Linked DNA regions of Homo sapiens. The protein of the gene in region 2 interacts with the protein of the main gene of each other region in a pairwise test. Each region holds a gene or a part of one and is shown on either strand. Other genes may lie near its edges.

Evidence for each region. Proteins that work in one complex are often made in the same cells at the same time.
Region 1: the proteins of UBASH3A (region 2) and SHISA6 interact in binary tests that used the Homo sapiens proteins (3 or more experiments, as listed by UniProt).
Region 3: the proteins of UBASH3A (region 2) and KRT32 interact in binary tests that used the Homo sapiens proteins (3 or more experiments, as listed by UniProt).

Annotation. Positions count from the first base shown.
Region 1 is NC_000017.11:11,244,213-11,251,212, forward strand, and holds part of SHISA6 (protein shisa-6 isoform 1 precursor), read left to right. Parts: intron 1-7,000. UniProt on the Homo sapiens protein: Involved in maintenance of high-frequency synaptic transmission at hippocampal CA3-CA1 synapses.
Region 2 is NC_000021.9:42,399,020-42,406,946, reverse strand, and holds the start of UBASH3A (ubiquitin-associated and SH3 domain-containing protein A), read right to left. Parts: upstream 3,046-7,927; 5' UTR 3,002-3,045; coding exon 2,889-3,001; intron 640-2,888; coding exon 586-639; intron 1-585. UniProt on the Homo sapiens protein: Interferes with CBL-mediated down-regulation and degradation of receptor-type tyrosine kinases. Promotes accumulation of activated target receptors, such as T-cell receptors, EGFR and PDGFRB, on the cell surface.
Region 3 is NC_000017.11:41,464,387-41,472,265, reverse strand, and holds the start of KRT32 (keratin, type I cuticular Ha2), read left to right. Parts: upstream 1-4,879; 5' UTR 4,880-4,940; coding exon 4,941-5,408; intron 5,409-6,089; coding exon 6,090-6,172; intron 6,173-6,336; coding exon 6,337-6,493; exon of another isoform or gene 6,494-7,507; intron 7,508-7,822; coding exon 7,823-7,879.

The DNA of each region.
Region 1 (7,000 bases), on a different chromosome or scaffold from region 2:
CAAGTTCACCACCTGATTTTATTCAGTTCACAGCCTCTCTTCCAGCAGCTGCAGTCTTGCCTGATCAGTGCTTTGGAAACCATCATATCCGTGCCTGTTGGGTAGGGGACAATGCCTGTCTGTGTGTGGTAGGGGGACAGGGCATGGGGGATCCATCTACGACACTCCATGAATGACCTTGGGCAGGTCAGGGAAACTTATTTTTCAGTTCTGGGTAACTGAAGCACAATGTCCCAACTCAGCTTCTTGCTTCCGGGGCACGTCAGGGTGAGTGTGCAAGTTGATCTCAGACTCCTGGGGGTGAGTGTGACTACACCACTCTTCTCACTTTGCTCACACCTCAGAGACCACCGTTTGCCATTCTGGGGAGTATTTTTGTGTAGACTGTCTTGTTGGGCAATCAAGGTAGGGAAAAGGAGGGAGTGATAGAGACAGAGAAATATTCACACCGTAATGAGTTTTCCTTAGGGAAAGTGGGGAGGAGAAAGAATGTACACTCTCGAGAGGTCAAGAGAGGAAGCGGATGTGCATGCAGTTACATATTCCTTGAAATAGCTCAGCAAAGATGTTTCCTTTCTGAACAAGAAAGACAAACCGGTTTCAGTGTGTGCTTCCCCCTGAAGATGATAGGTGGGCAGACAGGGGCTGAGTCTGAGGGAGTTTCAGTGAGAACAGCCTCATTGGAGAGGGACATTTATGGGAGTGTGAGCAGGGGTGAAGGGAACGGATGGGCCATCTGCATCTGCCTTAGTGCTCCCAGGCTGGACAGCCCTCCGCCTGCCCATGCACACACATTCCTTAGGGTAGGACTTCCTTTCATCTCTCTACTCCTTCAGGGAGGAAGATATTTCATCATTTCCAGAAGTGATTAGACCTTGCTATCGTGTTTCTGAGTGAGAAATCAGTGTCTGTGGGGGAAACCGTCAGCTCTCTTGTGATTCTAATAGATGAGTACCAAGTCCGACTCAGCTAGCTGGACTCCGTGGAGGAGGAAGAGATGGGCACAGGATTGAAAGGCAGAGCTGGGTGCTGGATGTGGCCAGAGAGCCCCAGGGCAGCCGTGCCTGCCTTTCCCAACCGGAAGCCCAATTCCTACCAGGATCTCCACTTCACTTTTCCCTTCTTCCAAACTGCCCGGGCTAAGGCTCAAGCTGCAGCCATCCACAGATTTTGCTATTTCCTGACTGACTTCCGCACAGCTCCCCTGAGGGGCTTTTTGTTCTGGGAGGGCCGCCAAGGGCATGGGCTGCACCCAGGAAACCGCCTGGGAGCCTGGGTCCTTTTTGACATTCATTTTTGTGCTAGCTGTCTCACATCCAAACCTGTTCCTTCCTCCTCACCCTGAGTTGATTCATTAGTGTCTTGGAGATGAGAATCATTCTGAGGGAGGAACTGTGTGGCTTTTTTTAATGGCTAATTAACAGATGGGTCAGGAAGCTATTAGGATGCTGGAGACGCAGTTGGTGAAATCAGAGCTGCCCTGGGTCCTTCCACTGCCTGCACAGGAGCAGAGGGGATCAAAGAATGTGGGCAGGGTGGGGGGGGTGGATATCTAGGTGGGTGGGAAGAAAAATCCAGGTGGATATCAACAGGAAAAAGTATTAGGAGGTGACCCCTTCATCTTGGGTTGGTTCTCTTGCTTATTTCTAGAAGAAGTCAAGGGAATACTTTGTTCTACTCTTTCTCCCTCCAGAAATTAATTAGAAACTCAAAGAGCTCTGTTATTTCCTCACAGGCCACATAACTGCAGTGGCAGGGCCCCTTCGCTGGCTGATTTAGTGAGTTCTCTTCCTAGGCTCCTGGGCAACAAATTGTCAAGTCACTGCGTTTTTTGAAGCACTGTGAGCTCACTATAATGAATTGATCTAAATAGAGAGTCGACTTATTTTTCTACTTCAAATATAGAAGGAAAGAAACAAAAAAGCATCTTGCCTTGGACTGAAAGTTTTAGCCTTGCCTTTATTTCTTTTTTCTTTGAGTTAAAAAAAAAATGCTTCGCCGGGTGCGGTGGCTCACGCCTGTAATCCCAGCACTTTGGGAGGCCAGAGTGGGTGGATCATTAGGTCAGGAGATTGAGACCATCCTGGCTAACACGGTGAAATCCCGTCTCTACGAAAAACACAAAAAGTTAGCCGGGTGTGGTGGCATGCGCCTGTAGTCCCAGCTACTCGGGAGGCTGAGGCAGGAGAATCCCTTGAACCTGGGAAGCAGAGGTTGTAGTGAGCCAAGATCGCACCACTGCACTCCAACCTGGGGGCCAGAGCGAGACTCAGTCTCAAAAAATAAAAAGAAAAAATAAATGCTTGTAGGGAAAGAGGAAAATTGTGGAAGAACTGGAGAAGTCTTATGGAGGAAGGGCTAGGGGAAGGATGCTGGGAAGGCAGAAAGAAGCAAAAATAGCGAAAGGAGGAAAGCAATCCAGTGAGAGGTTGATTATTCCCACTGAAGGGACAAAGTGACGTTGCCCTGCCTTCATGTGCCACAGGCTTGGTTTGTCCTGACTCTTGCAGACACACGCAGACATTCACTTAACAAATGAGCCCTGCTCACCTTCCCTGGGCAAGATGTGTTTCATACTACACCATATAAGCTTATAAGACACATGTTGCCTTTGATATATGAGGTTAGCAGGGTTCCTTCTTGCTTTAGCAGGGCAACCATGCAAATACTTTTCAAATTCCCTACACTGTGCAATTCTCCTTGGTCACATTGCTCACTGTCTTCATGTCCCTTCCTGCCCCTCCCCAAGCTCAGAAGGCCTTCACACCCATCCCTTTCTCCCCTCTTACCCTACCCGAGGTGGGGAGCACATTCATTTCTGGGAATCGACTGCTAAGGTACCAAGTTTACCCACTGTTCTAGGCTGCCAAGACACAGCTAGAGAAAAAAGCCTAATTCATTGTATTCAACTGGTTTTAATGAGAGATCGGATTGACCGTGCAGTGGATTCAAATCAATTGTGCAGGAAACAGTGGTTAAGACAGCTGAGAAAGTGATCTGATTGAAAGAGGCTAATTCACTAGCTCCAGACGGACAGTCCTACGGATCCGGAATAAAAGGGAACCACAACAAAAGAAGCTTCATGCTTCCAGTTCCATCGCCTGATTTTCCAGGGGCTGGCAGATTGTATTTAGGTCTTCCCTTTCTAGTTCAATTTCTATAGTCTGCAAGAATTCCTACCACATGCTGGAACTGCCACCGTGCTCCTGGCTATGGGAGGTCACCACCCTCCTTCCCTGCTGCCCTCTCCCCATTCAAACACCTGTACCATCCATTTTTGAAATTATGGTGAATTTTGTCTTACAATTTTGCTCATAGCCCTTGATGATATATCACCTCTGGAACCACAAAATGATGGTTTCAATTTACAAGCATGTAAGATGTCTCAGATTGGTTGGTGGTGGTGGGAGGGGTTGTGCTTGGGTGGAATATATGAGGATTTAGACTAAGTACGTTTTGTAGTTTCTGTTGTGATTTTTCCCCTCTTTTCTTTACCTTGGGAAACTCCACCCCATTATTTCTTCCTGAGTTACGTTTATGACCTCACCTCTTTGGCGTCTTTCTTTTTTTTTTTTTTTTTGAGATGGAGTCTTGCTTGGTGGCCCAAGCTGGAGTGCAGTGGCACAATGTCTGCTCACTGCAACTTCCGCCTCCCTGGTTTGAGCTATTCTCCTGCCTCAGCCTCCCAAGTAGCTAGGACTACAGGCGCCCGCCACCACACCTGGCTAATTTTTTGTATTTTTAGTAGAGACAGCGTTTCACCATGTTAGCCAGAATGGTCTCGATCTCCTGACCTCATGCTCTGCCCACCTCTGCCTCCCAAAGTGCTGGGATTACAGGTGTGAGACACGGAGCCTGGCCTCTAGTGTCTTTCTTTGCAGATATTGTAGAGAGATAAGAGGCCTGGGTACAAGGGTTACCAGTGAATCCTCAGAGGGTCTCAGTCCCTTGAACTCAACCCTTGAGCAAGCTTAATTTTAAAACAATTCAGGATACATTGCTAACTCTATTTTTTTTAATCTCTCGAAGTGAAACCAGAACTTCTGAAAAAGCAGGGTAGTACATTCTATTCTTTTGTCATCTATTACAGAATTATAACGTTTTCATTGCAGGCAATTCATTTAATCTCGTTACCTAGTTTTACAAGTGAGGCAACTGAAATTCAGAGAGGCTAGGTCACAGTGCCAAGGAGCCCAGCTAGTGGGTGGGTGAGCTTGGAGGTTAAGCCAGGGCGCCTGTGTTCTAGCGCTCAGACTCATCTCATTCAATGAAAATATATTCTGCTTCTTTACTCTTTGCACGTTCCTTGGTTAGTCATCACCAAATAACTTTGGGATCCTTAGAGATGTGAGTTACAGCCTTCTCCTTTCTCTTTCTTTCCTACGTTTCTGTACCCCTCCTGGTTCACTGTTTCCACTGAATGTCTCCACTAAAATGATTTCTGTCGATCTTCCCCGCTCCTTTTGCAGTTTTTTCACGTTCCTTTCTTAAGGGCAATAACCTAATCTAAGCATAATCCTTTTATAAGGTCTGAGTAATGCGGACTATTGAAGAAGGAAAATAACAGCACAACCAAAGAGTTGTGGACTGGGGCAAAAAGTCACCGAATGAAACTGTGGGCAGAAATCTGTCATTAAAAATTCAGGGCCAGGCACAGTGGCTCACGCCTGTAATCCCAGCACTTTGGGAGGCCGAGGCGGGCAGATCACGAGGTCAGGAGATCGAGACCATCCCGGCTAACACGGTGAAACCTCGTCTCTACTAAAAATACAAAAAATTAGCCGGGCTTGGTGGCGGCGCCTGTAGTCCCAGCTACTTGGGAGACTGAGGCAGGAGAATGGCGTGAACCTGGGAGGTGGAGCTTGCAGTGAGCCGAGATCGCGCCACTGCACTCCAGCCTGGGCAACAGAGCGAGACTCCGTCTCAAAAAAAAAAAAAAAAAAAAAATTCAGACTGTGAATGCTTTCTCTCTCTCTCCCAGAGATGAGTGGAAATGCTGAATGCTGAGACCTACCGGATCAATGCAGTTCAGCTCTGTGAGAGGCCAGAGACCTCCCGCCATCCAGTGGCCGTGTGTGTGTGTGTGCGCGTGCGTGTGTGTGGACGTGTGTGTGCGTGTGTATATGTGTGTGTGATTTCAGGGTTATCTTCTGGGTTGGCCCCCTGCATAGAATATAGCTCTGCAAGCCACGGAAGCTCATTCATAGACGCCAGTTTTGCCCTTTCTCAGCTCTGGGCCCAGATACTGCAGGCTAATCAAGCTGGAAATCTGGGCTTAATCATTATGTGAAAATAACCTCTGTGGCATGCAGTTTGGGGGTTTTCCCTGTAATGTGCTTGATACTTCCTTTGAAAGAACCTGGTTGTACATACCTTAATGTGTCACCCTTCCAAGCAGTCACCTTGGGAGGCCGCATGCTGATTTTTCTGCAGAAAATGTTTCCACGGTCCCTCTCTTGAAAGTACATTGAGAGCCCATGGCATGTCATTTTGACTTTATATAAGGGTAACATATTTTAATTTTCCTAGGGTTGATTTGATTCTTGTAAGCAATGGTAAGTCATGGGGCTGAGTCTGATGAATGAGATAGGTGATCAGAAATCAAGAGTGCCTCCAGTAATGAGACTTGCTCTCCTAGGAGCCGTGTCAGCTGTCTCTGAAGGCAGGAGCCCAGAAGAGGCATTTCAGAAAGGAGTGAATGGCAGCTCTGCACAGGAGTGCCTGGCAATCCACGATGATCATTTTGAAGAGGACACTCCTCATGAGGAACGACAATTATTGGCCTTAAGAAAATCAGTTTTATGCTTTATCCGTGTGTCAGGCAGGTGGTGGAGGTCCTAAGAGAGAGGGAGAAAAAGGAGTTGAGTCTGCAGCAAGCATTTCACATGGAACTGCTCAGAAAGGGTGAAAAAGTGCACGTCCCATATTTCTGCATGAGATAGTAGACAGTTAGCTTAATTTAGCTTCCTAGTTTGATACTGAGGGTAAAAGGACCCAGTTTTACGGGATGTATGCAGTGAGGCTCGGGGTCAGAGCCAGAGTGTTCACTGTGCCTTCCCTTCTTTCTATCCCAGGGCTGTCGCCTCTGTACTTCTGCATTCAGACGGGGTCACCAGCTGGGCCAGACTGCCTTAGATGATGTAGAAATATTTGCAAGCCCAGGAAGATAAGGCTGCCAGTGAGCACTGCTGATCAATTCCTAATGTGCATTTATCACCACTCGCTCCACCCCCAAATGTCCATTCAGTGGATGAATTGATCACCGAAATGGAGCGAGGGTGGGGCAGGCTGAGTGTAAAGGCAGGTGACAAGGGTTACCAGACTCAGTGTCTGCAGGCAGGGAAGCCATGGCTGTGCTACCTGGGTAGAATGGCATTCCTTCATCTCAGTCAGGATTTAGGGGTTGGTAAAGGGCTGGGCATTTGTACTGCCCCCATGCATAGGCCGGGGCAGAGCCTCTGGTCCTGATGACCCTCTAAAGGCCATTGTTGGGCATTCTGGAGGAGTCAGTCTTGCTGTGAGCCTGGGGAGTCCCTCTTAACTCTGCTCACGTGTCAGGACAGTGGGAGCTCTGTGTCCCAGGAGCTTACACAACCCCATCACTCATGCAAGCCCACAAGCCAGAGTTGGAGAGAACTGGAGATCTCGGTGAGATGAAGACTCAAGGAAGTGGAGAGGATGGTAGAGAGATACTCATAAGAGTGCCGGGTCTCGAGGGCTTACTCTGTACCAGCATCCAGCTTGCACCTAACCTGCATTATCTCGCTGCATCCTCCCATCATCCCGTCTGAGTGTAGGGGCCCATGTTGTAGATGAGGAAACCGATTCAGAGAGGCTTAGTAACTTGCCCAAGGTCACACAGCTAGTACATTGCTGGTGCCCTTCTCTCTCTCAAGTCCAGTAGAACAGTTGGGTCTCACCTTCCTGAATGTAATGGAGTCAGTGATACTCAGATTACTTAAGAAAGCAAAGACCTACCTTCCCATGCCCTGGGACTGGT
Region 2 (7,927 bases):
TCTATCAGCAAAGATGTCAATTATGTCTCAAATCTTTCCATCAATAAACACAAACATCCTCCTATCTATCTCAATCTTATCCATCGTAGTAGGCAGTTGAGGAGGACATAATCAAACACAAGTATGCAAAATCCCAGCCTGCTCTTCAATTACTGAAATAGGCTGAATATTAGCAGTACTAATATAAACCCAAATGTTACCATTTTTAACCTAATTACTTTATTCTAACAATTACCCTCATTTACGTGCTTATCACAACACAACAATCATGTCTTCCCCATTTACTCAACAAAGCACATGAACCTGTTCTTCTTGGCAGTCAAATTGGATTGAATCAGGTTTGTAAGTGAAGAAAGCCTTGTTCAGAGTTCTCTCTTTCTCTTTCCATGGTTAACCAAAGCCCTGTGCCCCTCCCTCAGTGCACTATGGGTAGGCAGGGAGGTTATTTTGTTTCACTTCCGCAGTGGCCCCATCCCACCCAGAGGCGCCCGGCTCTTCCTGGTATCAGCCCTGGTGGGAGGGAGTCCTTAGGCACAGGGAATTCAGCCCAAACGCCCCTGGGTCTACAGAAGCAGCTGCACTCACCAGGCCAAGGCCTCCTCCGCCGTCTTCCTCCCCGTGGCTGCCAACGCTTTCAGCCTGCAGAAGAGCAGACACAGACACAAAGTCACGTCGCCCATTCTTGGGAAAAGGGTCAGAGAGGCAGGGTGTGGCCTTGCACACCCAGGATCTTTGGGGGGTGCTCTGAAGAGGGCCTGATGCTGAACTTCCAGCTGGAAGTTCTAGCGCCTGTCCCCTGAGTGCTGCCATCGTGGTTTTGGACAATGCTGACCAGCTCACACCTCCCCCTCACTGTCCTTCCCTGGCTACCCGCTTCAGCCCTTGGCACGGGGTCTCAGGGCTGAGGACCTGACCTCCGCCCGCTCCTGCAATCCCTCTCCCTGGCCTGCCCCCCCCCCCCCCACTGCCTAGATCAAATGGACCCACCCTGCGGAACGTGCCCCTGGCTCGGACACACGCTTTCCTCACCCCAGCATCAGCGACCCTGATCCCCAGGCTCGCCTCCCACACCTCTCTGCTGGGAAACAGCCCTTTCCAAAGCACCCAGGCAGGCACTTGTTACGGCTTACACAGTCCCCTTGCACCCACGGCTCTCCCCTGCTAGACCAAGAACTCCCTGAACACAGGACTGAGTCTTATTCATCACGGTAACCCGGGACGTAAGTACATTGCATTGAATTGGGCAGAACTGGACCAAATGAAACAGAATGGAATATAGCAAAGGTAATTTATCAGGAATGCAGACTGGAAACAGCGGGCGTCCATGAGGAACCCACCACATGATGCCGAATGCTGCTATTTGGGTGGGCACCGATGGGGCTGTGGCCACCTGGAGAGGTTTGAACAAGGCAGCCTTGGTGCAGGGCACTTACTATGAGGTGCTCTGGTGTGGGGAAATTAACACACATTTCTCTTCCTCCAACATGTGCTTAATGTTTAAACTGGAAGGAATTTTGAGTAGAAGTCCATGCTATACGTTTAGTAGTAAAATCCAGCGTGGACTCCTTCAAAGGCATGGAAAGCTGGTTCGGGTTCCACCTCCGCCACTAATGCACTCTCTGGGCCCAGTGTCCTGCCTGCACTGGGTGGTGAGCAGTGGACAAAAGCTGCCTTGTCTGTAATGCCTGGACGGTGCCCGGTGGCCGCCCTGCACATGCCTGACCCCACTCCCCATTCAAAGGCCCCTGGCTTAGCTTGAACATAACAGTGACGACAAAGCCCTGATTTGGGGAGAAGAAATGGGTTTGTCTAGCTTCAGAGTTACTTCACCCAATTTGGCCAAGCTTTTGTTATAGTGTGGAAGGAAAGTTTAGCTCCTTCCCCAACCCAAAGTTACCTAAAGTGTGTTTCTGATACATTTTTCCATGTGAAAAAATGAATGGGTCAGATTTAAAGTGTGTTTCTGATACATTTTTCCATGTGAAAAAATGAATGGGTCAGATTTAAGGCACTGGTTTGCCATGAAAGCTGTAACCCAATGTTGGTGTCGTGGCCTCCCTCTCCGAGAGTGGTAACTCTGAAGGCTAAGCTCTTCCACATGCAGGCCTTTCCCTTGGGTAAGCAGGGTCGCGCTCACACTGTGTCTGAAGTTTCCTACCCATTTGTTTCGTTATCAGACACTCAAGGGATTGTCTCTGAGGACAAGTGACTTTCCCCGGGCAGCGTGGAAGCACAGCCCTGCTGACAGTTGGTCCCAGTGTTAGAGACTCAGCGGGCTTTGGGGCCTTTCACGTTAGAGTTTGAATATCTTGAAACGCCACTTTCAGAGTCACTGAGCTGCACACAAAGAGATTACAACCAGGCCCCAATCTCCTCCAAACCCCCAAAATGGGGCACCCAGAGTAATACATGGCTTCTGATTTTCACAAATTTCAGGGTCCCCCAGTCAGCCAGCCGAGCTGGTCTTTAAAAGGTCAAGAATATCAGGGGTATTCTTGTGCCTCCCTGGGCCACACATAAAATACGCTAACACTAATAATAGCTAATGAGCTAAAAAAAAAATCTCATAATATTTTAAGAAAGTTTACCAATTTGTGTTGGGCAGCCAACACAAATTGAACAGGGCAGCCTTAGGAGGCTGAGGTGGGATGATGGCTTAAGCCCAAAGCTGTCCTGGGCCTCATGTGGGTTGGACAAGCTTGGTCAAGATCACCTCATTTACGAGAAGCAGAAGAGGGCCCTGTGAAGAGGCAGTGTCTTACCCTGCAAGGTGCACTGCTTTGGCAGGAAGCCGTACCCTACACCCCTGCAGCTCCATGCCGGGGGCCGCAGCAGGGTCTGGCACCAGCCTTACTGGCTGGGCCCCGGGGTCTCTGGGCAGTACTCACGCGGTGTGCACCGGGAAGCCCATGGCCAGGAGGGGCTCCAGGAGCGAGGGGCTGCTGCGGCTCTTGAGCTTGTTGGAGACCTTGGCGTAGAGCTGCGTCTCCCCCGCTGCCATCTCTTCCTGCCCTTAGGCCAAGAAGCTCGCCTGCACACAGAAATGAGGAGATAAAGCAAGAGGGGGAGAGGCAAGGCTGAGGCTGTGAAGAAAAACCTCAAGCTCTTTTTGATCTTTCTGACAAAAGTTGATATCCTGTTTGCATGAGATATCAGTTTTCAGAATTCTGTTTGCAGGATGCTGGGTGCAGCGTCCACCAATCCTAACTGTTTCCACCACGGGAGTTTGAGGCTAAAGGTCCAACCGAGCCCCTGCACGGGATCAGCCTCTGTAGGGACTTGGCTAGTATTCGGGAGCAAGAATGCGTGAGAGCATGGGGGAAGGAAGCGGAGGAGAAGTCAGGGAATGAGTTCCCTCCTGGATCCTGCTGGCCCCCTGCCCTGACCCACCCTGGATCCCAGTCTCCTTGTCTGTGAACAAGACATTAAACCCCACTCTATCTATTGTCTCGGATTGCTGGAAAACTTACTGGTTCTTTCAGTCATTCATTGACTTGTTTTTTTATTTTAAAAACTTTAAAAGCTTTATATGTGTACAGAAAAGTTGATGAATCATATGTGTATAGCTCAAGGAATTTCCATAAATGAGCCCACACCCCTAATTCCCCCACGACCCAAAATCAAACAGGGCAACCAGGGGAATTTTGTACCTCCTCCACCCAAGGGGACATTTGGAAATGTCTGGAGACATTTTTGTTTCCAAAATGAGGCGGGGGTGGTGGTGGGTGGGGTGGACATCGTGGTACCGGCACTAGTGGGTAGAGGCCGGGAATGTCACAGTGCCCAGGACAGTCTCCCCAACAAAATTTCACTAGTGCCAAGGTGGAGATAGCCTGCTCTGGAACATTCTCAGAACCTCAGATGCACCTCTGCCCCCAGCTCAGCCTCCTCCAGTTATCTCCTCCCTCCCCCAGAAAGTAAACTGCTGTATCACTTGTATATGAATTGTGCCTGTGGTTGAGCCTTATGTAAATAGAACCATATAGCATATTCTCTATCATATCTCATTTCTTTTTCCTCAAATTATGCCTGTAAAATTTATCCACATTATTGCTTGTAGCCACAGTTAGTTCACTGTTATTGCTGTGTAGTATTTGATTAATAAATATACCAGCCAGGCGTGGTGGCTCACGCCTGTAATCCCAGCACTTTGGGACTTTGGGAGGCCAAGGGGGGGGTGGATCACCTGAGGTCAGGAGTTCGAGACCAGCCTGGCCAACATGTTGAAACCCTGTCTCTACTAAAAAATACAAAAATTAGTTGGGCATGGTGGTGCATGCCTGTAATCCCAGCTACTCAGGAGGGTGAAGCAGGAGAATCATTTGAACCCAGGAGGTGGAGGTTACAGTGAGCAAAGATTGCATCACTGCACTCCAGCCTGGGACAGAGTGAGACTCCAGCTCAAAAATAAATAAATAAAATAAATATAACATAATTCATTTATCCATTTCTCTGTTGATATGCATTCAGGAAGTTTTCGGTTGTTTTGCTATTGTAACTAATGTTGCTGAGGACGTTCTTGTATGTGTCTTTGAGTGCCTTGTGCATGCATTTCTGTTAGGTGTGCATCTAGGAGTGGGGTTGTTGGATCACAGAGCACGTGAAACTCCATTAGGAACTGCCAAGCAGTTGTACAAAGCTCTATATCCTCATGCACACTTAATATTATCAGTCCCTAATTTTAGCCACTCTGTGGTGGGGGTGGTGTGTAGTTGTATCTCCCTGTGGTTCCCATTTGTATTTCCCTGAGGGATAATGATATTGGGCACCATTTCACAGGCTTATTGCCCATTTGAATATCCTCTCTGGGGAAGTTCCTGTTCAGATATTCTGCTCTTTTTTTTTTTTCACTAGGGTGTTTGCTTTTCTTATCAATTTGTGGGAACTCTGGTTAGAGTTTTCTGCATCCTGTTCAAGAGATTGTTGTTAATCCAACATCGATGAAGATCATCTATGTTTTGTTCTAGAAGTTTTGCTACTTTTGCTCTTCATATTTAGCTCTATGATCCATTTGAATTCATTCTGTGTATGGTGTGAGGTAGGGGTAAACTTTCATCTACTTCCGCATTGAAAGGGCTATCCTTTGCCCAGTGAATTGCAGTAGGAGGCTTATTGTAAATCAAGTGACTGTATATGGATTAGTTTTTTCTAACTTGTGTGCTCTCTTGTTTGATTTGTCCCTCTTTGTGCCCATTCTACACTGTTTTAATCACTATAGTGCTAAACCCTCTGGTTTTGTCCTTTGCTTTTTCATAAACATTTACAAATCAGGTTGCCATGGTGTGTCATAGTGTGTCATTGGGTAGTGCAAAAAGATTCACACCTACAATCAATTGATTTTCAACAAGGATGCCAATGAAATTCAATGGGGGAAGGATAATGCTTTTGATAAATGGTGCTAGAGGCTCAGCCCATAATCTCAGCAGTTTGGGAGGCCAAAGTGGGAGGATCACTTGGGCCCAGGAGTTTGAGATCAGCCAGGGCAGCAGAGTGAGACTCCGTCTCTTAAAAAAAAAAAAAAAAAAGACATGGTGGCATTAGTTCCAGCTACTCAGGAGGCTGAAGTGGGATGATGGCTTAAGCCCAAGAAATCGAGGCTGCAATGAGCTGTGATTGCATCACTGCATTCCAGCCTGGGTGACAGAATGAGACCCTGTCTGAAAAAAAAAAAAAAAAAAATTAGTGCTAGGAAAACTGCATATTGGTAGGAGGAAAAACGAACCTCAACCCTTACCTCACATTATATACAAAAATTAACTCAAAATGTAAATGCTAAAACTATAAAACTCCTTAAGAAAACCTAGAAAAAAAATGTTTGCTATGTTGGAGTTTGCAAAACTTTCTTAGGACATAAAGCGAATAAACCAACAAAAGAAAAAGTTGATGAACTGTACTTCACCAAAGTTGAAAACTTCTGCTCTTTGAAAGACATCTTAAAGAGTATAATAAGGTGAACCACAGACTGGGAGAAAGTATCACTATACATATAGCTGACAAAGGACTTGTTTCTAGAATATACAGAATATTTTATATATACTTATAACAAATAATAAGAAAACAAGCATCTATTTTAAGAATGGGCAAAGTATCAAAAAAGATACTTTTAAAAAGAAGATATATACATAGACATGAAAAGATGCTCAACATCATTAGTCATCAGGGAAATGCAAATTAAAACCGCAATGTGATTCCACAGCACACCCACCAGAAGAGCTAAAATGGAAAATACCAGGTTTACACAAGGCTGGGGAGTAACAGGAGCTCTCACACTGTGCTGGTGGGAATGCGTAACTGTCCAACCACTTTGGGGAACATTTGGAGGGTTTCTTATAAAGGTAAATATACATGAAAACGTGTGTCCACACAAAGATTGGTCTATGAATGTTCATGGCAGCTCTACGCATAATAGTTCCTTCTATTTTTTTTGCCTTTATTGCACTGACTTGGAACCCAAGTCAAATGTTGAACAGATGTGGTACTAGTGCACCTTCTTGTATAACTCTCCATTTCAGAGGACAAGGTCTCAATATTTCACCATTAAATGTGAGCATATTGTGATATTTATTTGTATAGTTTTATTTTCACTTTTTTGAGGCAGAATCTCACTCCGTCACCCAGGCTGGAGTGCGGTGGCATGATCTAGGCTCACTGCAACCTCTGCCTCCTGGGTTCAAGTGATTCTCCTGCCTCAGCCTCCCGAGTGGCTGGGACTACAGGCGTACACCACCATGCCTGGCTAATTTTTATATATTTAGTAGAGATGGGGTTTCACTATGTTGGCCCGGCTGGAACTCCAGACCTCAGGTGATCCACCTGCCTCAGCTTCCCAAAGTGCTGGGATTACAGGTGTGAGCCACTGTGCCCTGCCTGATTTTTAAATAATATTCTTTTGGGGCCGGGCGCGGTGGCTCATGCCTGTAATCCCAGCAATTTGGGAGGCTGAGGTGGGCGGATCATAAGGTCAGGAGATCGAGACCATCCTGGCTAACACAGTGAAACCCTGTCTCTATTAAAAATACAAAAATATTAGCCGGGCAGGGTGGTAGCCTGTAGTCCCAGCTACTTGGGAGGCTGAGGCAGGAGAATGGCGTGAACCTGGGAGACAGAGCTTGCAGTGAGCTGAGATCACGCCACTGCACTCCAGCCGGGGTGACAGAGTGAGACAGTCTCAAAATAATAATAATAATAATAAATAAATATAATAATAATATTCTTTTTACTGTACGTATTTAAGGTGTACAATGGGATGTTTTGCTATATTCATAATAGTGAAATGAGCGCTGTCATCAAGCAAATTAACATATCTATCATCTTGCATTGTTACTTTTTTTACTTTTTTTTCATGGTAACCGAAACTAAAATCTGCTGTGGGCAAATTTTCAGTATTCAATAAGATATTATACCTCTGGCTGTCAGCTGTATCTTCCGTCTCTGGACTTCTTCATCCTACACATCTGCAGCTTTGCACCCTTTGATCCACACCTCTCCATTTCCTGCCCCTACACCCTCCCCTGAGAACCCCACTTTATTCTCTATGTATTCAACTTTTTTTTTTTTTTTTTTTTTTTTTTTTTTTTTTTTTTTTTTTTTTTAAGATTCCACATATAAGTGCGATCCTGCAGTATTTGTCTTTCTCCGTCTGGCTTATTTCATTTAGCATAATGTCCACACACTTCATTATCCTTTTTCTTTGAGGAATTCAAAAGATGAAATAATTCCACAATCAAATGATTTATCTTGAATTTGAAAGTCTGCAAATAGAGAAAGCTTGTGACCCAGAGGGAAAAAGTAGATTTGGGTATGAAATATAGTCTCTACTCAAGTATATTTTTCTCTTCTAAATAATAAACCCTGTTTTGAGCAATTGTGTTATGTTTATAACATATTAAAATGAAAAATGCTTCTATGCATTTCTCTTAAAAAAATC
Region 3 (7,879 bases), on a different chromosome or scaffold from region 2:
CCGTGGCTTCTAAGAGTTCAAGTGAAAGGAAAAGTTGCAGGTTTCTCCCTTTAAATAAAAAGCTAGAAATGATGAAGTTTAGGGAGGCGGCATCTTTCATAGCTAGACAGGAGGAGTCTGCCTTCAAAACCTTCAAAGGATGGGCTGACTCTCTTGCTAGGAGCTAATGCAGCTGATGACTTCAAGTGGGAAGTCAATGCTCATTTACCATTCTGAATATCCTAGGGCACTTAAGAATGATGCTAAATCTTTTCTGCCTGTGCACTACAAACGGAACGACAAAGCCTGGACGACAGTGCATCTGTTTATAACATGGTTTACTGAATATTTTAAGCCCACTGTTGAGACCTACTGCTTAGAATAAAAGGTTTCTTTCAAAATATTTCTGCTCATTGACAATGCATCTGATCACCCAAGAGCCCTGATGGAGCTGTCCAAGGAGATTAATGTTTTTGTGTTTGCCAACACAACATCCATTCCACAGCCCATGGATCAAAAACTAATTTTGACTTTCAAGTCTTATTACCTAAGAAATATATTTCATAAGGCTATAGCTGCCATACAGAGTGATTCCTCTGATGGATCTGGGCAAAGTAAATTGAAAACCTTCTGAAGAGGATTCACTATTCTATATGTCAATATTTGTGATTCAAGAGAGGAGGTCAAAATATCAACATTAACAGGAGTTTGGAAGAAGTTGATTCCAACTCTCATGTATGATGTTGAGGGGCTTAAGACTTCAGCAGAGGAAGTAACTATAGATGTGTTGGAAACAGCAAGAGAATTAAAATTAGAATTGGAGCCTGAAGATGTGACTGAATTGTTGCCATGTTATGGCAAAACGAACGGATGAGGAACTGCTTCTTATTCATGAACAAAGAAAGTGGTTTCTTGAGATGGAAACTACTCCTGGTGAAGATGCTGTGAACATCACTGAAATGGCAACAAAGGATTTGGAATACTACATCAATTTAGTTAATAAGGCAGTGGCAGGGTTTGAGAGGACTGACCCTAGTTTTGAAAGAATTTCTACTGTTAAAATGCTATCAAACAGCATCACATGCTACAGGGAAATCTTTCATGAAAGGAAGAGTCAACTGATGCGGCAAACTTCACTGATGTCTCATTTTCAGAAATTGCCACAGCCACACTAACTTGCAGCAATCATCACCCTGATCAGTCCTCAGCCATCAACATTGAGGCAAGACCTTCCACCAGCAAAAAGATTATAACTTGCTGAAGGCTCAGATGATCCTTAGCATTTTTAGCAATAAAGCATTTTTAAAATTAAGTTATATACATTGTTTTTAGGCCATAATGCTATGGTACACTTAATAGACTATAGTATAGTGTAAATATAATGTTTACATACACAGAAAAACCAAAAAGTTTGTGTGACTCACTTTATGGTTACATTTGCTTTATTGTGGTGGTCTAGAACTGAACATGCACTATCTCTGAGGTATGCCTGTATCTTCCTCTATCTCAGTGGGTCTCCAAACCACCTGAAGGACATGCTAAACACAGGCTGCTGCATCCCAGCCCCAGCCTCAGAGTTTCTGATTCAGCCAGTCTGGGATGAGCCTGAAAAACTGCATTTCTTTTTTTTTTACATTTTATTTTTATTTTTATCAAAGCAGTGTATCTACATTGTTTAAATAAAACAACATTAAATAGCAAATATTTAAAAACTGCAACATCTATGCCTTCTTTCTTTCTTTATTGTTATTATACTTTAAGTTTTAGGGTACATGTGCACAATGTGCAGGTTAGTTACATATGTATACATGTGCCATGCTGGTGTGCTGCACCCACTAACTCGTCATCTAGCATTAGGTATATCTCCCAATGCTATCTCTCCCCCGTCCCCCCACCCCACAACAAATGAGAACACATGGACACAGGAAGGGGAACATCACACTCTTTTTTTTAAAAATTTTACTTTAAGTTCTGGGATGCATTTGCAGAATGTGCAGGTTTGTTGCATAGGTATACATGTGCCATGGTGGTTTGCTGCACCTATCAACCCATCATCTAGGTTTTAAGCCCCGCATGCATTAGGTATTTGTTCTAATGCTCTCTCTCCCCTTGCCCCCCATCCCCCGACAGGCCCTGGTGTGTGATGTTCCCCTCCCTGTGTCCATGTGTTCTCATTGTTCAACTCCCACTTATGAGTGAGAACATGTGGTGTTCGGTTTTCTGTTCCTGTGTTGGTTTGCTAAGAATGATGGTTTCCAGCTTCATCCATGTCCCTGCAAAAGACACGAACTCATTCTTTTTTATGGCTGCATAGTATTTCATGGTATATATGTGCCACATTTTCTTTATCCAGTCTGTCATTGATGGGCATTTGGGTTGGTTCCAAGTCTTTGCTATTGTAAATAGTGCTGCAATAAACATACTTGTGCATGTGTCTTTATAGTAGAAAGATTTATAATCCTTTGGGTATATACCCAGTAATGGGATTGCTGGGTCAAATGGTATTTCTGGTTTTAGATCATTGAGGAATCACCATGCTGTCTTCCACAATGGTTGAACTAATTTACACTCCCACCAACAGTGTAAAAGCTTTCCCATTTCTCCACAGCCTTGCCAGCATCTGTTGTTACCAGACTTGTTAATGATCACCATTCTAACTGGCATGAGATGGTATCTCATTGTGGTTTTGATTTGCATTTCTCTAATGACCAGTGATGATGAGCTTTTTTTCATATGTTTCTTGGCCACATAAATGTCTTCTTTTGAGAAGTGCCTGTTCATATCCTTTGCCCACTTTTTGATGGGGTTGTTTGTTATTTTCTTGTAAATTTGTTTAAGCTCCTTGTAGATTCTGGATATTAGACCTTTGTCAGATGGGTAGATTGCAAAAATTTTCTCCAATTCTATAGGTTGCCTGCTGACTCTGATAACAGTTTCTTTTGCTGTGCAGAAGCTCTTTAGTTGAATTAGATCCCATTTGTCAACTTTGGCTTTTGTTGCAATTGCTTTTGCTGTTTTAGTCATGAAGTCTTTGCCCATGCCTATGTCCTGAATGGTATTGCCTAGACTTTCTTCTAGGGTGAAAACTCACATTTCTAACATGTTCCTGAGTCAGGTTGATGCTGAGAGTGACTGATAACACCTTATTATAATAATTATAGTTTTTGGGTGAGAGGATTAAATGGGCAAATTAATGCCAAGCACTCAGCACCATGCCTGGTATTTGTATACATTCCACAAGTGCTGGCTATGATTCTGAAGGGTGGCCTGATGAGTCTCATCCCTTGTAGTTGGTATTGCCATCACACCTCCTTCCATCTGATGCTATAATCTTCTCTAAATAGGTAATCCAGACAAGGTACTGGAATTTGTAGTTGTTGCAGAGAATCAAATTGTGAGAGTATTTGATCTGACCCCCTCGATTGGCATGAAGAAACTGAGGTCTGGAGAGACAAAATTACTTTCCCAAGGCCAAATGGCAAGTCAGAGGCAGTATATCTACGCTCTCCTTTTCTTATGCAATGAATGAGCTGGGTGGCATTTTCCCTTTCCTGTTCTTGTACTGACATTTCTGGGAATATGTGAAACATAAGGCAAGTACTTATACCCCAAAATTATATCAAGAAGATTACTGAATAAAAAAGTGGCTATATAGCACACACATACTAAATGTGAAGCTCACAGCTTTTGCAGCCAGGACTGAAAACCACTGCTCTAGCATGTTGCCTTCTTAAGTGAATGCCCAGGGCTTCTATAGTTGGGCAAATATGCTCCCTGTCTCCTGGCTTAGCTCATTCCAGGGCTATAGAACATCCTTTCCCAAGGGAGTGGATTCACACTGCTTCCATAGTCTGAGATCCTGAAGTGAGCCTTCCCCATCTGCCACAACAGAAAGTAAAAGTAGAACCTGTTCCAACTATTCTCAGTCTGTTCAACAAACAATTATTGAGCACTTGACAATTGTGTATATGGTGCAGTGATAATTGAATGGATGGTCCAGAGGGGGTCAAGACAGAGCAGCTGCCACCTGGAGATGTTCATGATATGGACTTTTCCAAGAGGAAGAGACCAACTGGAAAGATGTACCTGATTCTTAGGCTTCTGTTTGGGTCTTTTTTTTTTTTTTTTTTTTGCCTTTTGAAGGGGTGCAGCATTCCTGGAGGTACTGCAATACCAGGTCAACATGTAGAGTGAACAGAGCAAGCTCTTATTCCATCTCCCTGCTCCCAAAATCCATTTAATATGTTGTCCTCAGATGGAGGACGTATCAGATATTAAGACGATAAGAACAGATACCACACTTGATCTTAGCCAAAAGGCTGAGAAGTGATGCTGCCTATGTCTTGAGTTCATTCTCTCCCCACTGATATTATTTTCTTCCCCTTGGCAGGAAGATGATGTCTGTTAGGAAGCCTCTGAGGTTCCTGTTCCTTTCTGCTGGATTTATGCCGCTGCCAGCATCGGAGCAGTTTCTACCACCCACACATTTCCTTGTTAAATAGCCAGGCCTCTTCCCATGGGGAATGCTTTCATTAAAAGAGGCAGCCACTGCTGCACAGACCTGCAGGCTTCTCAGGGCTAGAGCAGGCGGGGGTGCAGTGGGCAAAGCCAGTGGAGGCACAGGCTGGGTTGTGGCAGTCTCCTGGAGGGCCTGCCCTAGTAATGAGGGCCCAGGCATGCGGCTGACCCTTTGAAGATGTGTCCTGAAGCTCTCTCATGGTGATCAATGACAGGAACCCAGACTCCTGCTTTAGCCAAATGATAAGTTTGGCCTCTTTTATTGGAAACCAAATTACAAATTAATTAGCAGCTTCCTCTGGGGCTGGGTGTGAACATCAACACCACCCAATGATGAATTTCTATCATGAGCCCCCTCACTGCAAGGGCATAAAATGGCCCGGGCGGCATGGGGTCTGTAGACATCCAGGTAGCTGTGGCTGAGGAGAAAGGGCCTCTCCAACATGACATCCTCCTGCTGTGTCACCAACAACTTGCAAGCCTCTCTCAAGAGCTGCCCCCGGCCTGCCTCGGTCTGTTCCAGCGGCGTGAACTGCCGGCCTGAGCTGTGCCTGGGCTATGTCTGCCAGCCCATGGCATGCCTGCCTTCGGTCTGCCTGCCCACCACCTTCCGGCCAGCCAGCTGCCTCTCCAAAACCTATCTATCCAGTTCCTGCCAGGCAGCCAGTGGCATCTCCGGCTCCATGGGCCCCGGCAGCTGGTACAGCGAAGGGGCCTTCAATGGCAATGAGAAGGAAACCATGCAGTTCCTTAACGACCGCCTGGCCAGCTACCTGACGAGGGTGCGGCAGCTGGAGCAGGAGAATGCGGAGCTGGAGAGCAGGATCCAAGAGGCCTCTCACTCCCAGGTGCTCACCATGACTCCTGACTACCAGTCTCATTTCAGGACCATTGAGGAGCTCCAGCAGAAGGTGAGGGCAGCGGTGAGGTGAATAGGCTCTCTGGGAAGGGAACTGGACTAGCTGGCATTCCAGATTGGAATCTCGTTAGCTTATTAAGCTATGTTCAGGACAAAGAGACTTCCCTAGGGCATAGGGTTATTTTATAATTTGAGCACTCAGCCTGAGGCTTTCATGTGGAGAGATCTGGGATCTAGTCTCAGTTCTACCATTGCCTCATTGCATGACTTTGGGGGTCCCATCCCTTCCCCAGGCCTCAGTTTTCTCATCTGTAAAACAGGGATAATAATGGTCGTTATCTAATGGGGTTGTCAAAAGGATTTGATGAGATGATGCAGGTCAAGTGCTTGGAACAGCCCCTGGTCCACGGTAAGTTTTCAGTAAATGTCAAAGACCCTTCTAACTGTCACATGAGTGACTTCAGACATGAGATTCTTCCCTTCCACATTGCTTGGCACATCCAAAATGGGGAATTTGAATTTACGAAGCTTCAGGTTCTTAAAAAATACATCTCAAGTTCTCCAAGGACTAGCAATTCGCTAAATATCTCCCAGAGTTCCAGGGAAGAGGACCTTCTGCAGGGATGGCTGCAGGGCTGCTGGATCCTACCTTTGCTGCTGTCTTCTCTTCATTTGGGTTCTTCTTGCTTCGTCTCATCCTGAACTAACCCTCTCCATGTGCCTTGGCCTACAGATTCTGTGTACCAAGGCAGAGAATGCCAGGATGGTTGTGAACATTGATAATGCCAAACTGGCTGCCGATGACTTCAGGGCCAAGTGAGTTCAGTCGGGGGGCTGGAGCTGGGGAGGACCTGTCCTCATAGGCTCTGGGGCAACTTTCCATTAGTTTCACGGAGGGTTGGAAAGTGCCGGCAGTTTAAGGCCTTCCCTGAGTTCTGCATTCTGTTTCACCCTTGGTTGCTGACCCTGTCCTTGTGCAGGTACGAGGCAGAGCTGGCCATGCGGCAGCTGGTGGAGGCCGACATCAATGGCCTGCGCAGGATCCTGGATGATCTCACTCTGTGCAAGGCTGACCTGGAGGCCCAGGTTGAGTCCCTGAAGGAGGAGCTGATGTGCCTCAAAAAGAACCATGAGGAGGTGAGGCTGGAAGTCCCGCTGAAGTGGCCCCGGGAAGCAGAGGGGGAGGAACGTGGGGTATGGGGTTGGATAGGCGTGGGTTGAAATTCCCAAGCCTGCCACATGTTGTTTTAGTGACTTTGCCCAATTTATGGAATCTTCCTGAGCCTCCTCTTCTGTAAAATGGGGACAACATGATCACGCAGGGTTATTGTGAGGATTTAATGGACAGGATATGGATCATGGAAATCCCCAAGGCATGGGTATGAAACACCTGCCACTTGGTCAACTCTCAGAAGTGTAGCCCCCTTCCCTTCTGCATTTCCTGGGCTAGTGTGACTGCCAAGCACTCACTAGTGGCAACTGCATTTTTTTCTCTCGAGAGCCACACAGCAGAGGTAGAGTGGTGCAGTGGTGCCGGGGTGAGTTATGTTCCAGATCTCACGTTGAATGGCCTGTCCATCTCTGCCTGGCTCAACTCTCAGAAGCAGTCCCATCTCTTCTGAGAGGGAGTACAGCTGCAGTGGTCTCCTCTTTTTGCCCCTATCCTTATTTTGTCCTCCCTTCTGTTTGCATATAAAATGCTCAAGCTGAAGCCCTTTACTTTCTGATTTTTCCTTATCTCCTGAAGTTTCTTGGAGGGGAAGCCCTCTGCTTTGGGCACCTGTGTGCTGCCAAGCCCACCTGAGCCATGGTGTTTTTCCCCCCTCCCTGGTTGACTCTCAACCTCTTGACTTGGGATTTGAATGAACAAGTGCCTCTGAATCTTGGCTGGGTTTCCTCAGGCTTAAGTGTAAAGTAACAATCAGTCACCACGTACTCACCGAGCACCCTCGGGCTCCTGACTCATCTTGCTCAAATCAGAGAACTGGGAACGGCACCAAGAAGCCACTAATGAGAAGTTATCACACATCCTGGCAGACTCAGTGACAACTTTCCCTCTTTGGCAGCCAAGCCTGGGAGGCAGCTGCCCTAACTCGGGCCTTTAACTAGTCAAGCCAGGCTCCTGCTACCCTCCTCCCAGGATGAACACAGGTGGGGAGGGAGACTGGGAATACTAGGGGTACCGGTTTCCCATTTTAGCCCAAATGCATCAAACAAACCAGGGTGCTGCTCTTGGCTTCTGCCAAAGTGATAGGAAGTGTTGTGTTGCAGTGAGGTTCCCATCGCAGGGGTATTCAGCTGGAGTTTGAAGAGCACTGGGATGCTGCTGAGTGGACTGCAGTCCTTAGGGGCCATCTAATGTTTCAATCTTTAGCAACTTTTGTTGCATCTTTTCATGTCTCCCTGGGGAGGTGAGCCAGGATCCTATCATTGTCACATTTTTCTGGAGGTCTTGTGCCTTTTCAGGAAGTCGGTTCCCTTCGATGCCAGCTTGGGGACCGCCTTAACATCGAGGTGGACGCT